Regions from separate parts of the Homo sapiens genome. Here regions 1, 2 and 4 are each linked to region 3. Evidence: fine-mapped expression QTL. A gene starts in region 3. Each other region holds a variant in brackets. All regions are shown on one strand. Distances are from middle to middle.

Region 1 (5,144 bases), 59 kb after region 3:
ACAGTCCAGGGGGTGAGAGTGAGCCAGGAGAGCTCCTGGGAGGAGGTGAGGTTTCAGTTAAGACCTGAAGGCTGACAAAGAAGCAGCCAGGAAAGAATGAGGTGCCCTGGGGGAGGGGCAGGGTGCTCCTGGCAGGTGGCACAGCACAAGCAGGAGCTGGGAGGTTGCAGAGAGCAGAGAGTGGGTAAGCCAGTGGAGGAAGCAGGAGTCGGGGGAGGGGAGACCGTGAGCGGAAACAGGAAACAGCTCCCATCAAAAACGGAGACACAGACTGGAGCCAAACCACTTTAGGACCTTGCCGGCCAGGCTGCCGAGTATGGGCTTGACTCCGAGGCCCACAGGGAGCCACGGAGGGCTTAAAATCAGGGAGTCCCATGGCCAGATTGTGCTTTAGAAATTAGTGATTGCAAAGAAGAAAGCAATGTTTTAAGGGGCAAAAGCCATGAGCAGAAATTTCACAAAAAAGAAAATGCAGATGGATGACGAACATGGCAAGATGTTCATCCTCATTAGTAACAAGGGACATGTGGACTAAAACCACACCAAGGTACCATTTCACACCTACTACACAGGCACACAAGAGTTGGTGAGGAGGTGGCACGCTTGGCAGCAACTGGTGGAAATACACATGGGCACAAACACTCTGCAGCAAGTATTTGGCATGAGCTGATGAGCCTAAATATGTGCATGTCCCATGACCTAGCTGTACGTCTGCCCTAAAGGACTCATACAAATGTCTACAAATGTCACAGGGAGACAGGCACGAGGCGGTTATAGCAGCATTATTTGTAACAGGAAAAACAAAACATGACAAAAACCAGAAAGCAATCTAAATATCCATAGACAGAGAATCATTCGGTATGCAAGAGCTGGTCAGTAGAATACTATACAGCACTGAAAAGGAATGAAGACCACCTGTAGGCACTGATGGATGCATCTCATCTCCTCAGTGCAATGAGGAACACTTAAAGTATGAGTCTCTTTATATCAAGTTCAAAAACAGCCCTAATTGAACAGATTAGGGGTGCATACAGAAGTGGGAACACTTTTAAGGAAACTCTGGGAGTTAGTGTGACTGGGAAGGGGCCCCAGAGAGGATTTCTGGGTCAAGAAGCCCATGCTTTTCACAGAACCCCTTTCTAGTGTTTGCACATGACCCGAATCAGCCCCTGGGCTCATGTCACATTCTCTCCTGCTGGCTAACATTTTTGCAATGGGTGTAACCTGCTTGTTTTATTATTAGTCACCAACCACAGGCGACTTGCTTTTCCATCAGACCCTCGCAGTGTGCTTGGCCTTCGGTTCCCAGCCTAGTGGGAGCCAACGACCCTATGAGATCTGGGTATTTCTGGGTATCTCTGGGCTCTCATTGGCTGGATCACAGGGGCTTCCACGACTTGACAGCCAATCACTGAGGAGCTTGATGAAGTCCCCTTCTGTCTGTTGAAAACTTTAGAGAGAACATATTTTAAAAATGTGTGCTAAATACATATCTGACAGTGTCTGAATTTAATGTCCAAGAAATTGACCTGAAACTCAAGGCTGCAAATTTACCCACCCTTTTGGGGCCATTCATGGATCGCTCTCCAGCATCTGGGAACAGCCCTCAGTTTCCACGTGGAGATTCCTCCCACCTGCTCAGGCCTCTGGACACATATATGACCTGGGCAGAGCCAATCAGCACAGCCCATCCCCACGGCAGTGACTGGTTCCAGGCCTGGGCACCTGAATTGAGTCCCTCCATTTGGGGAGAACCTTAAGACCAGTGCAAAAGTGCTGCATTCTAGCTGGACTTGAAGGGTTATGAGTTGAGTGACAATGGGGGAGAAACTTGCTCCTGGTAACATGTTTGAAGGACTGGATCAAGCTGTGCTTGAAGTCCACCCTTGTACTCTGTCGGTACTGAAGTCAATAGTTCCCTTCTTGACTTAGCCTCTTTGAGTCAAGTATACTGTGACTTGCAGCAGTAAGTCCAGACTGGCACCCTTTCCCAACTTGTCATTCACACCTCCTGAGCCAGAAACCTGTGTGTGTGTTTGTGTGTGTGCGTGTGTGTGTGAGCCTGCCCCTCCCTTTCTCTGGCTCCCAGCATCACACCAGTGTCCTCTCCCCACAGTGTCTCTCCAATCCTACCATTGCCCCCATGCCACCAGCCCTGTCTGAACCCCATCATCTCCCACCTGGACTCTTGCACCAGCCTCCTCCAGTGGCTTCCCACCGCTCTCAGAATAAACATGGAGCTTCTTCCCGTGCCCACAGGCTCCCCCGTGAGGCCTGACCCTGCCACCTCCTCGTCTCCCCAACTATCCCTTCAGTGGACTCCTCAGCTTCCGGATCCCTTTCCCAGAGCCCACTTAACTGTCCTTGAGCACTTCCTGTGTGCCAGGCCCTGTCTGATCCTTCCCACTGGTTAACTCATGGAGCCCTCCCAAAGCCTGGCGATGTAGGAGCTGCTGTTCCTATTTTATGGAAGAGGACAGGAAGCCCAAGTGGTTAGGAGCCTCCCGAGTCTGAGTTAGCACACAGCCAGGCAGCCGGGCTCCAGCTGACCACTGTCCGCACCACCTCCCCTGCAGCACTGCCTCAAGGCGCTTCTTATTGTGTGGGTGTGAGGTTGTTGGATTTATATCTATCTCCCACTGGAATGTGAGCTCCATGTGGTCAGGGGCGAGTCAGCCCTACTCATGGCCAGAGCCCTGGTAGGATGCACAGTACCTGGCACAGAGTGGGTGTCCTGGAAAGGTTTGTTGAGTAATATTAGCTAATACTTATTGAGCACTTACCACATGCAAACCACCTCCTAAGCACTCCTAAGCATATAACTCAGTCTTCACAACAGCATGCCGAGGTAGGCAGTTATTTTATAGTTGGGACCCTGAGACACAGAGAGGCAACTTCTCCCAGGTCCCATGTCTACTAAGCAGCAGAGCTGGGCTTCAAACCCAGGCAGCCTGGCTCCAGAGTCTGACCTGGTAACCACGTGCTATGTCATCCCTGTGTGGGCGGATGGCTGCACAGATGGCTGGATGGACACTGAAGCTATGTTCCTGCTGGGGGTCAGGGTGAGTGGAGATCAGGGGCATGGAGCCGAGACTGGG[C/T]CCATGTCCCGAACATGTCGGGAGGCCAGGGCCGACAGATGGAAATGAAGGATCAAGGCACACCTTGCGGGGGTCTTCTCTACTTCCAGGGGCTTGGCCAGCTGGCCAGTGTGGTCCAGAGGATGTGGGTCTCCCATCTGCTCCCTTATCAGGGCCCTGGTGAAGAGGCCTGGAGAAAGGAGGGGTTGAAGCACCTGGGGGAAAGCGGGAGGGATGGGAAGAGACCAGAGGGCAACTCAGTGAAGATACTCAGGACAGAGGGACAGACCTGCCCATGGCCAAGCAGCTCTGGACCTTCAGCTAGGAGGTCAAGGGACCCTGGAGTCAGAGTGTGTTGGCAGCTTAATACATCACCCGGAATAACTACTGCCAGTTTAGGTCACATGGCCTGAAGGCTGGAATGTGGAAAGTGAAAGTTCTCTATGGGCCGTGCAGACCACTCTAAGGACTTGTGCTCAGTCCCTGGAATAGTCCTGGAAGAGGGACGGCTGAATTGGCCCCAGGATACTAGAGCAGCTGGGGTGGCTCAGCCTGCAGAAGAGCAGCCTTGAGGCTTTGGCTGAGGAGAAGCAGACAGGCCAAGAGGACCAGAGGGTGGGGCCAGAACCCAGAAGGGGGTCACCTCTCTGTGCAAGGATGACTTTTCTCTCAACATCCAGAGTTGCTCAAGAAGAGAGGGTGTTGCCCTCCCACCCCATAGCTCAGTTCCTGGCTCCTTCCTCTGGGTTCAGCTGGGGCAGGGGCACCTGGGCTCTTTCCACCCAAGGAAGGGGGTTCCAGGCTCTGTCTTTCCTGGCATTCCAGTGGCCCATTGGGGCCCCAGGGCCTAAGGGCCGGATGAGGAAACACAGAGCCTGCTGGGCCGTGGCCCCAGGCACAGGCTCTGGGCTGAGAGGCCTAGAGAGAAGAGCCTGGGACTCCAGGGGGCTGTGTGACTCACTCATGCTGCCTGGGGGGACCCAAGCTCAGCTGCCTCTGAGCTGTCTCAGTTTTGTTATCTGTGAAGTGGGGACACCCAGTGTTTAACCTTCAGCTGGTGGAGGACATGCAAGGGAGGCAGCTGTGTCTGAGCTTCATAAACTGTATAATGCAGTGACGATTTCAATCACCATTTCTATCATTGGATTAGTTTCGGTCTGTTAAGAAGCCCAAAGTGATTTTGCCAAGCAAGACAGGATTAGATGTGCAAGGAAATTTTGCAGGGAGGGAGCAGGAGAAGGCAGAGAGAAGTTCAGAGGGCAGCACAATTCTGACACTTGTGCTGGGAGAAGGGGAAGAAGGACTGGGCAGGAGGAGTCTTGGAATGTGATGCAATTCCAAAAAGCTTCAGCCAGGATGATGATTGGGCCTGGGAGCTTTTCCAGCAGGTGAGTGCAAGGAGTCCTGGGTCTCTCTGGGATATTGCTGCATTCCCATTCCTAGCTCTGTGCTCTGTCGTTGGTTGGGAGCAGCTCACAGTGGCCTCAGTGCAAATGTGATGGCAGGTGTGGAGGAGCAGTCAGTGACCTATGCTGCAGAGATAAGTCGAGATCTGAGTGATACATCTTCATGGCCACCATAATCCTAATTATCCAAAACCCATCTATACCCAAGATGGGTTGGGTCAAGTCCTGCCAGGTAACCAGAGGTTACTTGGAGCCTCAGAGGCCAAAGTTTGTTATTTAAACAGAGATGTGTTTCCCTTCTTCACATTCCTAGAAGGGGAGGTTTCCAGGTATAACTGGAAATTCTTGCCCCATAACAAGGCAACCTGCTGGAGGACCAGCCATCAGCTGCATGGGACGGGCAGCCAGAGGGGCTTGGGGTTAGATTCAAGGGCAGCAATAAATGAAGGTTTCATGGATGGATGAAAAAAGAACTGGAATAGAATATAGGTAGCTTACTATTCTATTTCTATCTTGGAATAGAGGAAGGCTTTCCAAGCACAATCCCAAAACCATAGACCACAAAGAAAAATACTGGTAGGTCTGTCTACATCAAATTTTTAAAATTCTATGTGTAAAAAAGTATATAACCAAAGCTAAACTAGAGGAGTTTGCAGCATGT
Region 2 (5,144 bases), 140 kb before region 3:
ATACTTGATATCACTGTCAGGGAGAAAACAGGGAGTGGCGGGGCCTGTGGCAAACTGGAGAGTGCAGCTCTAATGGAGTCAAGGTTGCTTCTCATTGCCTGCTGATTTTGCTGTGGCAGACACCATATCTTTAGGACATGCTGCATCTTAGATTTTTACCTGGAATCTTCCTATCTTTACATGACAACAAGCTGTCTCAAAGGCCTGAGTGAGCCAAATAAAACACGTTTGTAGGCTGGATCCAGATTCTCTAGTTTCTGATTTACTCAAACTCTACCTGCTGTCAGATAGGGAAACAGAGGCACAGAGCTGCCAAGTGACCCAACTGAGGTTACAGAATTTGGAAGCTGCAAAACCCTGCCTTTAATTCCATGATAGGCTCCAGGACTTACTTCCTTTTAACAAAGAACATGCATTTGGTGAGTGTGGGGATGTGCATGTGTACCTCTGTGTTGTATGTATGTGTCTCTATGTATGTGTGTCTGTGTGTGCATGTGTGTCGTGTGTGTGTGCATGTGCAGGCAGGGGTGAGGGGTTGGCAGATCGGTGGGGGTTTTTTTGTGGGTGTTTCTTTCTTGAAAAGTTTGCTTCTTTGCCCCTGATCAGGGAGGTGCTTGGGTTAGACATAGTTTATTTCTTCTTGAGGCGGGGACTAGAAACTGTTTCTTTTCTTGGGACATATAAGGAACACTTTTTGTTTTTCTTTACAGCTTAGGAGCACCCAGGGGTTACTGAGGCCCAGAGGAGCAGAACGAGGCCCTTGAAGACAAAAATGCTCTTCAGAGCCAACTTGCCAACTCTCCACCTTGCAGAGGGGCCCAGAGGGGCAGGAACTCGCCCACAGCCCATCCTATAAGTAGCAGGGACAGGCTGGATACAGACACAGGGCTGCACCCCAGGCAGGAGAACCACTAGACGCAGTCCTGACCCCTGGCTCTGAACAAGGCGCCTCCCTCTCTGAGGCTGTTTTCCAAATGCAGACAGGGCACAGTCCCCAGGCCTCTTGAGGCCACCCCCAACTTACCCTGTGACCTTGACCCTCCCCGCCTCAGGGGCATCAGCAGGTGGCAGCCCCTGCAGCCCCTGCCCCGCAGGCTTCACCTGAGGACTGGAGGCAGCAATACTGAAAAACGTGCAAGGGCGCCCCAGCCTCTGTTGGGTGCTCTATGTGTGTTAAATAAACACAAACGATTAAATTATCAGCCACTCAGACACAGTGAGCCCCAAGCTCAGAATTCTTTGCTCTTTTGGCCACACATCAAGTGAGTTCCCACCTCCAGGCCTTTGCCAGCCCCTCCCATCCTGAAACATTACTCCTCTGTGAAGCCTTTGCTTGGCCCCACCTCTGGGCTCCCATAGCACCAATCACACCCGGATGTTTACCCCACTGCGATGGACCACTGTCATCCCCACGGACTGAGAGCTTCTCAGGTCTCTCAGCCCCTGCCCATGCAACATGTGGCCCCGAAGGAAGATTGGGCAGCTGGCACTTCCTCTCCCCCTTCCCTGTGGCCTTTCCACCTGCCTCCTACCTGGACTTGGATCTCATCCGAGAGTTCTCTGGCCAGGCCATACAGCTGCCCCGATGTGGGGTCCACAGCCTTGACCACCACCCTCAGCCCGGTCCGGCCTTTTACCCGGCCGAGCACGTTCATGGCAAAGTTGTACTGTGACGGGAGTCGGATCGACGCCTGGGAAGACATCAAACACGTTTTCAGGGGTAAGGCCCAGGCCCCTGTGTCCTCAAAAAGGCAGAGCCGGACAGTAGCCCCAGACCCCCCAGCCCCCCAGTCCTGGTAGCTGCTGGCCTGTTCTCAAGGGCTCTGCCTTCCTGCCTGGGTTGGGTCTGCTAACCCCAGAGCTGTGCAGACCCGGCTTCCCCAGCATGGGTGCCCGGGTCCTGCCCTGCCTGCATCGCACAACATGCACAGATGCATTTGGAAAACACTGGGCCCACCCACGTAAGCCAGGGGCCTTCATGACAGGATGTCCCTCAGACTTCAGTGCTTCTAGGTCACCCAGAGCGATGCTGGGTTTTGCAGTGTGTCCCTGCAGACTATTCTGTTTGGGGATATCTGCTAATAAGTCTCACTGTTTGTGTTCCATGGGAGCAATCTGGGGGAGCCCCCGGGCACCAGGGACAGGACTCTGTTCCCACTGGGTGGGGTCGGGGGGCATTCGTCCCACACTAGACAAGCTTCAGGCAGCCTTTAGGAAATCCTATCCCTGGGCTTTGGTCTCTTTCCAGGCCTCCATCCCCACTGTCCCTGAATCAGGCAGGGAGCGACCTTTCAAGCCACCCTCCACTTGGGTCCTGTGTGTCCAAGGCCCACCTGGGCTTGGGCCTAGAGTCACAGGGGCTGGTGCCCAGTACCATTTCCCCACTGGCTTGCTGGGCAACCCTGGGCAAGTCCCTTCCCGTTTCTGGCCTCAGTTAACACAGACAGACTTAGTAGTCTC[C/T]CTGGCACCTTCCAGCTCTGACATCTTAGGAGAAGCCAGGGCCCCTCGCTGGGCTAAGGGAAGGGGAATTTGGCCTCTGGGATGAACCAGGAGAAACCGAGGGCTGCCAGGCATCATCTCAGAAAATGGTCAGAAGCTGCAGACTCTGACCTCCCAGGACTTTTGTGACTTCCTCACACGGCTGCTTCTGTTGGGAGAGGCACCTACTCACCCCGTCTATGTGTTTAGCATTTGGGAGAAGGGAGTCCCGATGAGCCTCGGGAGAGGGAAGAAAGTGGGCGGGCCTCTCTAGGTGTGAGGGTGGGGACTTCCTGTGGGACAATGTGGCAGGAACCCTCCCTGCCACTCGGGGTGCTGGCCTGGGACAGGGGTGGGAGGTGAGCTCTGGAGGGGGTGGTTACCTACCTCGTGGTGCCGCCCTCGGAGGTCCAGGACGTCCCGCTTGGTGACAGACCAGTGGAAGGTCAGGCCTGGCACGGCATTGCCAAAGGAGAAAGGGTTCTGGTGGTTGGTGATGCCGGTGACATAGATGGGCATCTGCAGGGGAGAAGTCAGGCCCAGTGAGCAGTAGCTCCCAGCACTGGGAATGCCCCCAGAAGCTTTGCTGCCTCCTTCAAGCAGTGGGAGATGAACCCAATTCCTCCCCAACTAGAGAAGAGCATGGCACAGGTTTGGGAATTTTGATGAAATATCAAACGAGCAAACCAGAGGTGGGACTGTTTTCCCCATACTGTCCCTCCCCTGCAGCGGGCTGCACCTCTCCATGGCCAAGATACTCATTTCCGGAAGGAGTCCCTGGAGCTCTAGGAGGCCATGGGTCCCCCAGCAGCACAGCTCGTGCTGCCCCACAGTGCTGGTTCCTCCGGGCCCCTCTCTCCTAATCTAGCTGGGGTCCCTGCTCACAGGGCACGTGTGGGTGGGGTCCCTGGCTCCTTTAGTCTCTATTTGCTGTGTCGGCTTGAGGGCACAGGCGGAGGCAAGACGGCAAAAGGCCACAGCAGGTGTTGTGCCAGGCTGCCCAGTCCACTCCCACTGCTGCCACTTCCTAGCTGTGTGGCCCTGGGCACGGGTCTTAAGCTTTCTGTGTGTTCATTTGCTCATCTGCGACACGAAGATGGTTCTGACACCAGCCTCCCAGGGCTGCTATGAACACCAAATGGATTAATGTCCAAGACAGCACGGAGTTGAGTTAAGTGCCACAGTCACTGTGCTCCTGTTAGGCACCTGGTACTATTCCAGATGTGGGAAGGTGACAGGCCAGCAGGAAGCAGGCCTTCATCAGTGGCTACCAGAGAGCAATGGAGGGTGTCTCCCTGGGTGGGGACAGGTGGGAAGCAGGCCCTAGATACCCGGGCCAGGCAGATGGAGGAGGTGGAGAAGCACTCTAACTTGAGGACAGGGTCCCAGCAGTGGCTCTTCGGGAACCAGGATTCAGAGCCCAGGAGGTCCCCTCACCTGGGTGCCCGTCCTCATCCGCATGATGGGGGCGCGGATCCTCACGGCCCTTAGCAGCAGCACCTCCACCTGCACGAGGTCCTGGGGAAACAGGGTGGCACTTAGGTGTGGGGATGCAGTGCTGGCCAGGGATGTTTCAGGAAGGGACCCCTCAAGGGAAGCAGGCTGCGGCTCAGAGTCTGTGGCGAGAAGGCCCCTCAGGATGACCAGCACCATGCTCCTCTGCCGAGGGAGGCCTGGCTTTGTGAGTGGCTCTCCCCTCATGGGCCAGCCACTGCCTCTCCCAAGGCCCCGCAGGTCCCAACCCAGTCCCCTGAGGCTGCTGCCCTGTCTGATCCAGCTGTTCCAGGTCAGCACTGCAGACTTGGGGCCGGGGACTGGTGCCTGCTCTTCCTTAGGCCTGGCTGCCCTCAAGCAAAAGGTCTCCAGGCCCTCCCAACCCCAAATCCAGCCTGCCTGTCTCTGACTGAGCAGGGTACAGGGACGAATGCAGGAGCCCTGTAGAGTCTGATCAGAACTTATAACCTCCTTCATTCTGAACTCCACACTCCTATTAATCTGGCCAAAGACTAACTCTCCTGGCTTCTTCCTAGTGCTGCTGAGTCATGCTGAACTGAGGCTATTAAAACCCTTAGACTCTCTGACGTGCTCAGGCTGAGCCCATCTTGAGGCTCATGACTTGGGCTAATGCCTGGCACACAGTAAGTGCTTGAAAAGCACCCATTCCCCTCCTTTCACTCATCTTTCTGCTCAGTCTCTTCCTGCTAGTCCTGGCCCACCCCACGGCCTTGGGGTGCTGGTTGTGTGCTCTGGATTGGACAGATGGAACTGGAAGCATCTGACCAGAATCACATTCCAGGCATGGACAAGGCGCCGCAGGTGAAACCTCTGCCTGCCTGGGCTCAGAACATGCCTTTCAGATAGGGCTCGTGGTGCAGCCCCTCCACCTGCCAAGGACCACCAGGGCCTTTCCCCAGCACCTCCCCAACCTGCCAGATGGGGGACCTAGAAGGGAGGGTGCCCAGCAAGGTTAGACCACAAAGACAAGGAATACGCAGGGCCCTGTGCCCCTCTTGCTGAATTTCTAGCCAGCTGCCCTTTACCTACGCCCTCAGGAGAAAAATCAGCCAGCTCCTGAGGCTGCACTCCTTTTTAGAGAAAAAAAACCACAGAGTCTCCTGTGGTCTGGAATGTCACGCTCCAGGAAGCCCATCTGAACCCTACCCCAT
Region 3 (5,144 bases):
CCATGTTGGCCAGGCTGGTCTTGACCTCCTGACCTCAGGTGATCCGCCCATCTTGGCCTCCCAAAGTGCTGGGATTACAGGCGTGAGCCACCGCGCCCAGCCGTGCCTGTATTTTTCAAAAGAAGTGTTATATTTGGGACTTTCTTATTTGTTTTAAGTTGAAATATATTTCAATATTGCATGAAAGGGGAAAAACAGTTAAGTATACAATGTTCAATAAGTCAGTGTCTTGTTTCATTAAATGCCATTTAAAAATAAAATACATATGGTTAAAAAGTGAAAAAATGTATTTCTTCAAAGGGGCCTTCCCTGACCACTGTCCAAATCAGGGACCCCATTATTCTCTCTCTCACAGTCTCAGCCTATGCCTTTCACAGCAGTTACCACATTTTGTAATCACAATTTTCCTTCCTAGGTTAAGGCTTGTCTCTCCCACTAAACTATTAGCTTGACAAAGGCTTTCTGAACTCATCTGCTCTGTGCAGCTGTGTCCCCAGTGCTGTGTCTTAGTGAGCAGACACACTAGGATACTGCAACAAAGAGGCCCCCAAACACAGCAGCGTGCATAACACTTATTTCTTCCCCACGTGATAATGCGGCCGGTTGGCCCAGGCTTTCATGGTGGTTTGAAGGTGTTCACAAGCTCCAGGGCCTCCGCAGACCACTTAACTCTTTAGCTACCAGGACACAATTTTAAAAACCCTTGGCCAGGCATTGTGACTCATGCCTGTAATCCCAACACTTTGGAAGGCCAAGGTGGGAGGATCGCTTGAGCCCAGGAGTTAGACACCAGCCTTAGCAATATAGTGAGGCTGTGTCTCTTAAAAAATAATTTAAAAATTAAAAAAATTTAAAAACCCACTTATTCAGACCAATCCCACTCTCTTTGGCCTCAGCTTCAGGTCCAGGCTGCCCAGATCCTCATTCTCCCAACCAGAGGATCATCTGTGTGGCTTCCCAAACTACAGAGCAAGTTCCCTGAGGGGAAGTCGGTCTCTCACAAATGCCACAGGGCCACTGCATGCACTCTGTCACTTTATAAAATAGTACTTATTCCTTCTGTGGTTTACATCTGCCCACATCCCTGACCTTTGAGTGAGTTACTTCACCATTCTGTGCCTCAATTTCTTTATCTATAAAATGGGGATGACAATAGTTTGCCTCCTAGGACTGTCAGAAGAGTTCGACAAGCAAAAAGCATTTGGACTTCAACTTAGCACATGACAGATGGTCTCTGAATAATAATCAACATTATTGTCTCTTGATTCCCTGGACTTGCCCATGAAATCCAGAGAATGAAGTGCAACCAGAACTTCATTTTCTTCCTTTTTTTTTTTTTTGAGATGGAGTCTCACTCTTGTCGCCCAGGCTGGATTGCAATGGCGCGGCCTCACCGCAACCTCCCCTCCCCGGTTCAAGCGATTCTCCTGCCCCAGCCTCCCGAGTAGCTGGGATTACAGGCGCCCTTCATCACGCCCAGCTAATTTTTTGTATTTTTAGTAGAGACGGGGTTTCACCATGTTGGTCAGGATGGTCTCGAACTCCTGACCTCAGGTGATTCACCCGCCTCGGCCTCCCAAAGTGCTGGGATTACAGGCGTGAGCCACCGCACCCGGCCCAGTACTTCATTTTCAGATGCAGACATGAAGGACCAGAAGGCTGAAGCAACCTGCCCAAAGCCACTATGCTGGCGGGTGGCCGAGTTTGGGTTTAATCCAGGCCCGAACCTCAGTTCCCTCAAGATAAAGTTGGGGTGATTATGGCACCTTTCTCAGGATTAGGTTGTGAGGCTCAGATGCCATCATGCAATCATGGCAGGCACACGGGGGCCCCTCTTCAAACGTCTGTGCGCTTCCCTTGTGCCCCGCCCTGGCACACAGCCGCCCCCGCGGAGCCCAGGGATCCCAGCCCGGCAGTCCTCCGTCAGCTGCTTCTGTTTGGATGGCGGGGACGGCTGGGCCGACAGAGAGGCCCATTGTCTCCGTCCTCTGGGGCTCTATTGTTGGGGCCTCCTCCTGGGTTGCAGCCCCACGGACAACCCCAGCTGTCGCTTGGGCCTGGCTCAGCTTACCCCGGCGGTGAGGGTGCGGGTCGGGGACGGAGACGCGTGCACCCTGAAGACAGTAACTAGGCCTGCTCTACAGAGGGAAACGCAGGCTCTGAGAGCCTACATGTCTTCGCCGGGAGTGCTTGTCCCGGAGCTGCTCGCAGACTGGGCCGGGGGTGGGCTCGGGTCGGAGAGGTCACGGGGCTCCTTAGGTCACAGGCGGCAGGGCCAGAGAAACTCCCCCGCCCCTACGTTTAACTCGCGGAAACAAGGGCCCAGAGAGCCCAGACGCCAGCCCAAGGTCACACAGCGAAGCCCCGGCACAGCCCGCCGGGAACCTGTCGTTTCTAACCCCCAGCCTCTCGCCGTTTCTACCCAGCTTGGGAAGCGCAGGAACAGGACATACGGTGGTCGCGCCCCTTCCGCGAGGCCGGGGTGAAACCCGCTTGGCCCTCCCGCCAGGGGGCGGAGCTTCCGAACCAGGCGGGATTCCACCGGGTATTTGCCTGCGGAGGCGGGACTTCGGGCTTGATGGGCGTTGGGGGTGGCCTTCCTGCGGGCAGGCTCTCTGTGTCGCAACACTGGCGGGGCGGGCCAAATCGGCCAGAGCTCTGCCCCCAGAGGACGCGGCTAAGCCCGGGGGCGTGTCCTGGGCTGGCCCCACCCGCGCCCCGCCCCGCCCCGCCCGGTCGCGGAGCTGCGGCCAGCTTTGGGAGGGCCGGCCCCGGGATGTGAGTGCCGCGGGGCGAGGGCGGGGGTGGGCTCCCAGGGGTCCCGGTGGGCGGGCGCGCTAGGGCGAGGGCGGGGACGGCCGGGCGGGCGCGCCAGGTAAGGGCCCAGATTTGCTGGTGAGGGGTGAGGGACGCTCGGGACGGGTGTTTCCAGGCCCTCCCGGCGCGCCAGGCCAGCCCCGCGCCCCTGCTCGGTGGCCCGAGGGACGCGCGCCGGCCGCGGGCCTGGGCCCGGACCCGGAGCGGTCGGGCGATGTGCGCGGGTCTGACGTCTGCGCTGCCCAGCCCCCTGGCTACGCGGACGCCCCCACGGAGGCAGCCACTGGGGCGGATTTCTGTCTCTGGGTGACGACTGCCAGGGTGTGATGGGAAGGGTTAGCAGCGCAGCGGGGTCAGGGGATCCCCGCCCCCCGCCCTGGCTCAGGTTGGGTCCCGACTTGGGTTTCTGAGTGCTTACTGTGCTCAGCTCCTCAGTTGCATTCTCTGAGTCCTCACAACAGCCACACATTTTGCAGCCGAAGCCTTGTGCCACACAGCTGTGGGGGCATTTATTACGGTGCAGAGGTGATGCGCGGAGGCCTTGCAGCCAGACACACCTGAGTGCACGCCTGCTTCTCCACAGACCTGCACTGTGACCTTGGGCACACCTGGTCTGCTCTCTGAGCCTCTGGTGCGATTGTGGTGCCTACCCCCAGGGCTGCTGTGAGGACTGGATTGGAATTGGGTTCCGGGAAAGGCAGCCAGTTTAAGCAGCTGTTGTTGAGGGGCCCTTGTCTGCGGCTGAGGGGCTAGTGGTGCTGGGCAATGGCTGGTGGGTCAGTCCAGGCGGGCTCGGGAGGGAGCTGCTTTCTGCCGAGGCTGCCCCAGCTGTGCGTCTGTCTTTTTCCACACGGTAGGCTACACACAACCCAGCTGTACCAGCATGTGCCAGAGACACGCTGGCCAATCGTGTACTCGCCGCGCTACAACATCACCTTCATGGGCCTGGAGAAGCTGCATCCCTTTGATGCCGGAAAATGGGGCAAAGTGATCAATTTCCTAAAAGGTATGGAAGGTCCCCCTTGGACTCTCATCTGCTTCCTCCAACCCACCTGTCCTCTCCGTCCTCATCCCCAACATAAGCCTCAGGCTCTCTCCCATCTTCAGTTTCAGCCCTCGGATGGCCTTCCACCCATGCTTCCGCCCAAAATGATTTTTCCAACACAGACTCCTAATCACGATATGATGTCCCTGACTCAGACTCTCCCTGGCTCCCCATCCTGTGGGCCTAAGTCCTGCCTCTGCCCAAGAGGCCTAGTGGAAAGGTAGCTGATTACTGATGGGCACAGGGAAGGTGAAGCTTGGAGGAGTCCATTTCCTAAGGTTCAGAGAGTCAGGAGGTAGAGCACCTCCACCGCACCTCTCTTGATTACAGATGGGGGAAATTGTGTCCTAGAATGATTAGGAAACATGTGCACCCAATTCCAGTCCAGTCCTCACAGCAGCCCTCGGGGTAGGCACCACAATCGCAGCAGAGGCTCAGGAGCTCACTGTAACCTCCGCCTTTCAGGTTCAAACAATTTTTCTGCCTCAGCCTCCCAAGTAGCTGGAATTACAGGCGTGAGCCACCACACCCGGCCCTGATTTCTTAATATGGCACTCATTATAAGATTGTAAAAGCCCACCTGTAGACCGAACTGGGCACACTGGCTGCCTGCTTGTGACCTCTTTCCAGGGAAGGACACAGCTCCCATTAGTGGCTGAAGTAACACAGTTACAAGAGGCGGAGTTGGGTTTGGAACTCAGAGCTCCAGGCGCCCTACCTTTAGGGCTCATCCCCTTGAGCAAAATGATGCTTCGAAGAGCATATCGTTTTAACTGTGGTTTGTAATCAAGGGGCCTGATTTAGGTGGGAAATTCACTTAAACTTGTTTTAAAAGGAAACATTATGTCATCAAAATGGGAAAAGGCAGTTTCACTTGCCATAAATAGGTCATGGTAAAAAAGTAAATGCAATGAAAACAACAGTATAATTCAATCCAGGCTGGTTACTATTGCCTGCAGGCTGTGAGACTGATTAGTGGTTTGAACGGAAGATGAGCAAAGCACAGGCAGGTGTTGCGAGGCCATGCCACACTGAGCCTCCTGTAATATCATCAGAAGGTGGAGGGAGGCCGGGCGCAGTGGCTCGTGCCTGTAATCCCAGCACTCTGGGAGGCCAAGGCTAGGAGAACACTTGAGGCCGGGAGTTTGAGACCAGCTTGGGCAACATAGCAAGATCCTGTCTCTACAAAATAAAAATAAAAAACTTAGCTGGGGGTGGTGGTATGCACCTATAGTCCTAGCTACTTGAAATGCTGAGGCAGGAGGATCACTTGAGCCCAGAA
Region 4 (5,144 bases), 210 kb before region 3:
TAGACTGCATCTCAGACCCTAAAATGGGTCTCAACAAATTTAAAAGGACTGAAATCACACAAAGTATGATCTCTGAACAAAACGGACTGAAACTAAGAGTCCCCTAAAAATGTCTAGATGACAGCTCTGATAGGGATATGCTTGGCTGATCCTTGCTCATACCACAACCTTCCCAACCACCCTTGCTTTGTTTTGCCTCAGTTCCCCCATATATACCATGGAGATAATAATGCTCCCCACTTCACAGAATCATGGCAAGTGCTTACAATAAATAGCCAGTCATCAAGGTTGCTATTATTGCTCATCAACAATGGAGGGGTGGCGGCAACCCCTCACATTCCATCCCTAGGTGAGAGACATTCATTCGTACAATATTACACTTTCAAGACACCTTTGTTCCCATTATTTGATGTGGTCCATCACAGCCCTGCAGGATCGTCTGGTGAAAGGGAAAGTTGGTGGTGGTGAAGCCCCAGTACGGGGGCATCTGTTGACTCCTTAGCCCAGAGACTGGCTCACAGTAGGTGCCAGGGAGGGCAAGCAGGCCAACCTAGGGGTGAGGGTCAAAGGGGATGGTCAGAGTCACCCCGCACACCCCTTTTAGGTGGCGGATTTTTACACATCTCGATGTCCGGCAACTGCTGAGCTGGGTAAGAGTAAAGCCTCACAGAAAGTAAAGACAGAGATGTGAGCATGTCATGGGCTGTGGGAGGGGGATGGAACTTTCCAGGCTCCTCCTTTTTTGTCGGGGAGGCCCTAATTCAATTTAATAAAATTAAGACTCCACAACTTTAAAACATGTGAAGAGGCTGCAGCGTTAAAGGGATTGAGATAACACATCGTACAAAGGGTTGGATTCAAAATCAGCAGCATTAACTATGCAGAGAAGTGGGTAGATAAGAGACATGTGCTGAAACCCAAGTCACCTGATTCTAAATTCCATGACTTTCTAAAATCACTTTCCTTCTCAACAGAGAAAGAAGAAACAATAATGATACAAGTGGCTCTGTGCACAGTTACATACATCAAGGATGTAATCCTTGCCACTCCTCTAGCAGGGAGGTTTTATAACCCCATTTTACAGGTGAGGAAGCTGAAGCACAGAGAGGCTCAGCCACAGGCCAGAGAAGACAAAGACAGGTGGTGCATGTGGAGGGAGCTGGGATTCAGGCTGCTGGCCTGGCCCCAGAGTCTGTGTCCTGGCTCCTGGCCACCGTGCTGCCCAAATACTCCACCGGGAGCCTCACCCAAGCCATCTAGAAGTCCTGGCCAGCCCAAGGGAAGTGAACATCTCTGCTTGGGCTGCTCCTCCCTCAAGGTGAAAGAGGGGAGTGGCCTGGGTGTGGGAAGCCAGAGGCAGAGTCCAGGGGTGTCGCCAACCACCTCACTCCCTGTTTCAAGAACTCCCCGTTTCAAGAACTCCCCATTCCAAGAACTGCTGCAGGCAGCCAAGATGGGCACGGCCCCTCCCATCTGGAGCCACTCCTTTGGTTCCACTCCTCTCTCTCCTTCCCATCTGAACTGGCGATTGTTGGGGGAAAAGAGAGGGTGGGGCCGTGTGCCTTCAGCCCCAGCCCACGTGCTCCTGCCCATCCCAGCAGCCTCTGCCCAGGATCCCAGCACCCAGCTCTGCAGCATCTCCTGAAGCCTCCCTCACCCTGGTACCCATGCCTGCCCCAGGGGCCAGAGATCCTGCCCAGACCTAAGTCCCATCACTTCCTCCTCTGCTCAACACCCTCCAGGGACTTCTGTCTCCCTTAGATCAAAGCCAAAGTCCCCAGTGGGCCCACATGGCCCTGCTGGCTCTGCCTCACCCCTCGCCCCTGCCCTGTTTGCCTCCACCCTCCTCTCTCATGCCCTCCCCCTCACTCTGCCCCATGCACACTGGTCCGCTCCCTGCACCTCAACCACGCCGCCAGGCACACTCCCCACTCAGGGCAACCCTAAGAGGGAGATCCAGTTGTCACTGTCCCCATAGCAGAGATGAAAAATCTGAGGCTCAGAGAGGTGCATTTCACATGCCGAGGGGGAGAAAGTACAAGCAAATCCCAAAGCCGGGACCCTCCCTCCAGTCCTGTCTTTGGGTTTTCCCAGGCTACCCCACCAGGTCCCATTCAGCCTCGGGCTGTTCATGGGCCCTGCAGCCCATCCGTGAATCTCATCCACAAACATGCCTGCCCCCGGAAGTGTCCCCAGAGGCTGTCCCCCAACACCACCAGACACGTGCTAAGGACTTCTCACCTGAGCGCTGAGGCCATCCAGGAAGCAGAGGATCCCACCCCGCACCTTGTCCTCGCAGGGCCAGCACTCCACAGGCAGCTACAAGTGACTTGCAAGGACCCTCCTGCCCTACCGGTCCCAGGACACCCTCTGGGCAGGCCCTGTCTTCTGCCCTTGGCAAGCTGTGCTCCTGCGGTTCCCACGGAGGGGGCGGGCTCAGGCCCCTTGGTTCTCCACGGGTGTGACGCTCTTCATGCAAGTGGTATGCAGAGCAAAGGACAGCTAAACCACCACAGGTGCTTCCAGCAAAAGCTGGGGCAAAGCCAGAAGAGGGGCCCCCATCCCAACCCTCCCCTGCGACCACATGTCCCAAGTGTGTCCTGCATGAATGAAGACGTGAACAGCAACTTTCTGGGAGCTCAGCAAGTGTTCATCTCAGCGGAGTGGGGAGGTCAGACCAACTCAGAGAGGAACACCCGGCACTGGCTGCTGGGTGTGCTGCATGGCTTAGAGGGCCCTCCCCAAGCACACTGGCACCCACTGCCCATAGCAGCCCTGCCAGCTGGGTGCAACCACTGTCAGCTGCTTTGCAGAGAAGGAACTTGGGCTGTCTCCAGGTGGGTGACAAAGCTACATTCATTCTGGCTCCTGAAGCCAAAAATCTGGGGAAGGGACCATGCCACATTTGGAAACGGCCCCCAATGTTTCCAAAACATCTACACAATGCAATGAACAGTTCTGAAGCAGCCCAGCGTGGTGGTGAACTGCACCAGCCCTGGAGGCAGACAGACCTGGGTGTGAATCCCGCCGCTGCCACTGGGTGACTGTGGGCAAACCACTTAACTTCTTTGAGCCTCAGGTTTCATATATGCGAAATGGGATGAGGACAGTTCACACTTGT[C/T]ACAGGGTTAGAGCATCAACAGAGACATGGAGAAGAATGTGCCCAGCAGGCAGCACCTAGAACGGGCTCGGTTATTGCTGTGGCCTCACTACAATCAACACATTCTAAGTTCAGGTGCAGAACGACAGTCTCTAACCCGTTCCTTTGTGGATCTCGCCTCATCCAAGAGGGAAAGCTGAACACTTCAAAATCAGGATTCAAGCTAGGCCCAGCTTGGAGGGCAGGGGCCAGTCTTGTCCACCAGCTCCCTAAAACTGATACCTGGGTTCTAAGAAAGGCAAGTGCCCTAGGCTGGTCTGTGCCCATCTGGGCCTCACCTGGCCCAGTTGCACCGACCTGTTACAACCAATGACAGCACCGCCCAGCCCCTCACACACCCCGGGCACAGACACACCACACATGCTGCTTCCCCTGCCTTGACACCATCCTCCTCCTCTCTCCTGCTCTTCAAGTCCCAGCTCAAAGGTACGTCCTCCAGGAAGCCTCTGCTGACACCCGTGGGTGGTCACTCGCTTCGTGCTCTGGGGCTGCACACCACTTGGCCCCCTTCCTCCGTGGCCTGATCCCTCTGTAATCTTCCAGGTACAGGTCTCCATCTCCTATTTGCATGATGTTTCCAAGTGGAGGCAGTGGGGGAGCGGCCCTAACCAAGGACAAGCAGCCCAGGAAGGGGTGTGAGTAGAAGAGGTGGCAGTCGGGTGCAGGCAGTGCAGGGCCCGGCTCCTGGGCCACAGCAGGCGCTCTACCGATGTGAGCTCCCCATCCACAGAGTTCCAGAACTCCAAGGACGGAGGGGCATGGAACATAGTAAATATTCCAAAACCTTCATTGCAGAATCCAGGGGGACAGTGTTCTGCCCCATACAGCTCTTGCAACTTTTCTATATGTTTGAACATTTTTGTAATAAAACATTGAGGGAAAACAATCCTCAAAAGCATTCTTTTTTTTTTTTTTTTTTTTTTTTTTGAGACAGAGTCTTGCTCTGTCACTCAGGCTGGAGTGCAATGGCGTGATCTCGGCTCACTGCAAGCTCTGCCTCCCAGGTTCACACCATTCTCCTGCCTCAGCCTCCCAAGTAGCTGGGACTACAGGCGCCTGCCACTGCGCCAGGCTAATTTTTTGTATTTTTAGTAGAGACGGGGTTTCACCGTGTCAGCCAGGATGGTCTCAATCTCCTGACCTCGTGATCCGCCCGCCTCGGCCTCCCAAAGTGCTGGGATTATAGGTGTGAGCCACTGCACCTGGCCTCCTTCAAAGCATTCTTGATGCCCTGGCTATTCCTCCCCTGGAGCCACCACCTAATGCGGGGCCACAGGCAACTCCTGTATCTGCTCTCCCTGCACGGAAGTGGCCTTCTCCATTTTCATGGGGAGAGACAGCAACTCAGAGAGGCTGGGGCTGTTACTTGGAAAGTCCAAGCAGCAGGGAAGTGGCTGAGGCAGGGCTGGGATCCTGCCAGCCTGCTACGGGGACAGGGCTAACTGTCCAGGAGCCACAGATGGGGGCCTGCAGGGTCCCCAGAGCAAGGCCAAGGCTGATGGGCTGGAGAAAGGCATTGGCAACCTCAAGGCAGCAGCCGTTTCCCGATGAAAACAGAAGCACCCAACGTTTGCCATAACTGGCCCGGTGCATCCTGCTGGAATATCCACCCCTCGGAGGGCAGGATTCAAACTCCCAAGGCCTTGCTACCTCAGAGCTTCAAGTCATTTGGTTGCAGCCTGGCCCGGGTCTGCCCTGGGTGGGGGCAGCACACTGGAGGCCGCTGAACTCGGACTGCCTCCTGGCCCCACCGCAGCCTCTGCTCCATTTCAATTAGGTCAATTCCCTCTCCCCTATTCCAGTTCTTGCCAAATGCCTGGCTGGCCTGTGTTGTTTTTTCTGCTGCTCTGTGGCAATTATACGGCTGACACCCTGACAAGCTCAGAATGGTGCACTTCCCAAGTTAGGCAAAGCATTGCTCCTCCTTAAAAAAAAAAAAAAAAAAAAAAAAAAAAAAACAGAAAACAAGACACAAAAGACCGGA

The links. PIP is the estimated chance that this variant, and not a neighbour inherited with it, causes the effect.
Region 1: its variant is the best candidate, but not a certain one, in a credible set for the expression of HDAC11 in cerebellar hemisphere (GTEx, PIP 0.87).
Region 2: its variant is the best candidate, but not a certain one, in a credible set for the expression of HDAC11 in whole blood (TOPMed, PIP 0.52).
Region 4: its variant is the best candidate, but not a certain one, in a credible set for the expression of HDAC11 in whole blood (TOPMed, PIP 0.85).

What each region holds. Positions count from the first base shown.
Region 1 is chr3:13,536,835-13,541,978 of GRCh38, forward strand. No RefSeq gene overlaps it. Among named protein-coding and RNA genes, the nearest start is that of FBLN2, 9.7 kb to the right of the region's middle. The variant C/T (reference allele first, on the strand shown) is at 3,099.
Region 2 is chr3:13,333,922-13,339,065 of GRCh38, forward strand. It overlaps NUP210 (nucleoporin 210), which reads right to left. Exons shown (of 40, transcript NM_024923.4): 26 at 3,916-3,996; 27 at 2,866-2,997; 28 at 1,533-1,691. Among named protein-coding and RNA genes, the nearest start is that of NUP210, 84 kb to the right of the region's middle. The variant C/T (reference allele first, on the strand shown) is at 2,461.
Region 3 is chr3:13,477,572-13,482,715 of GRCh38, forward strand. It overlaps HDAC11 (histone deacetylase 11), which reads left to right and starts at 2,735. Exons shown (of 10, transcript NM_024827.4): 1 at 2,735-2,778; 2 at 3,675-3,823. The coding sequence starts at 2,777. It overlaps HDAC11-AS1 (HDAC11 antisense RNA 1), which reads right to left and starts at 2,482. Exons shown (of 2, transcript NR_046690.1): 1 at 2,072-2,482. RefSeq lists enhancers at 2,091-2,150, 2,800-3,456 and a silencer at 2,611-3,100.
Region 4 is chr3:13,272,020-13,277,163 of GRCh38, forward strand. It overlaps a transcript of IQSEC1 not described here. Among named protein-coding and RNA genes, the nearest start is that of NUP210, 150 kb to the right of the region's middle. RefSeq lists an enhancer at 4,588-5,088 and a silencer at 5,115-5,144. The variant C/T (reference allele first, on the strand shown) is at 3,122.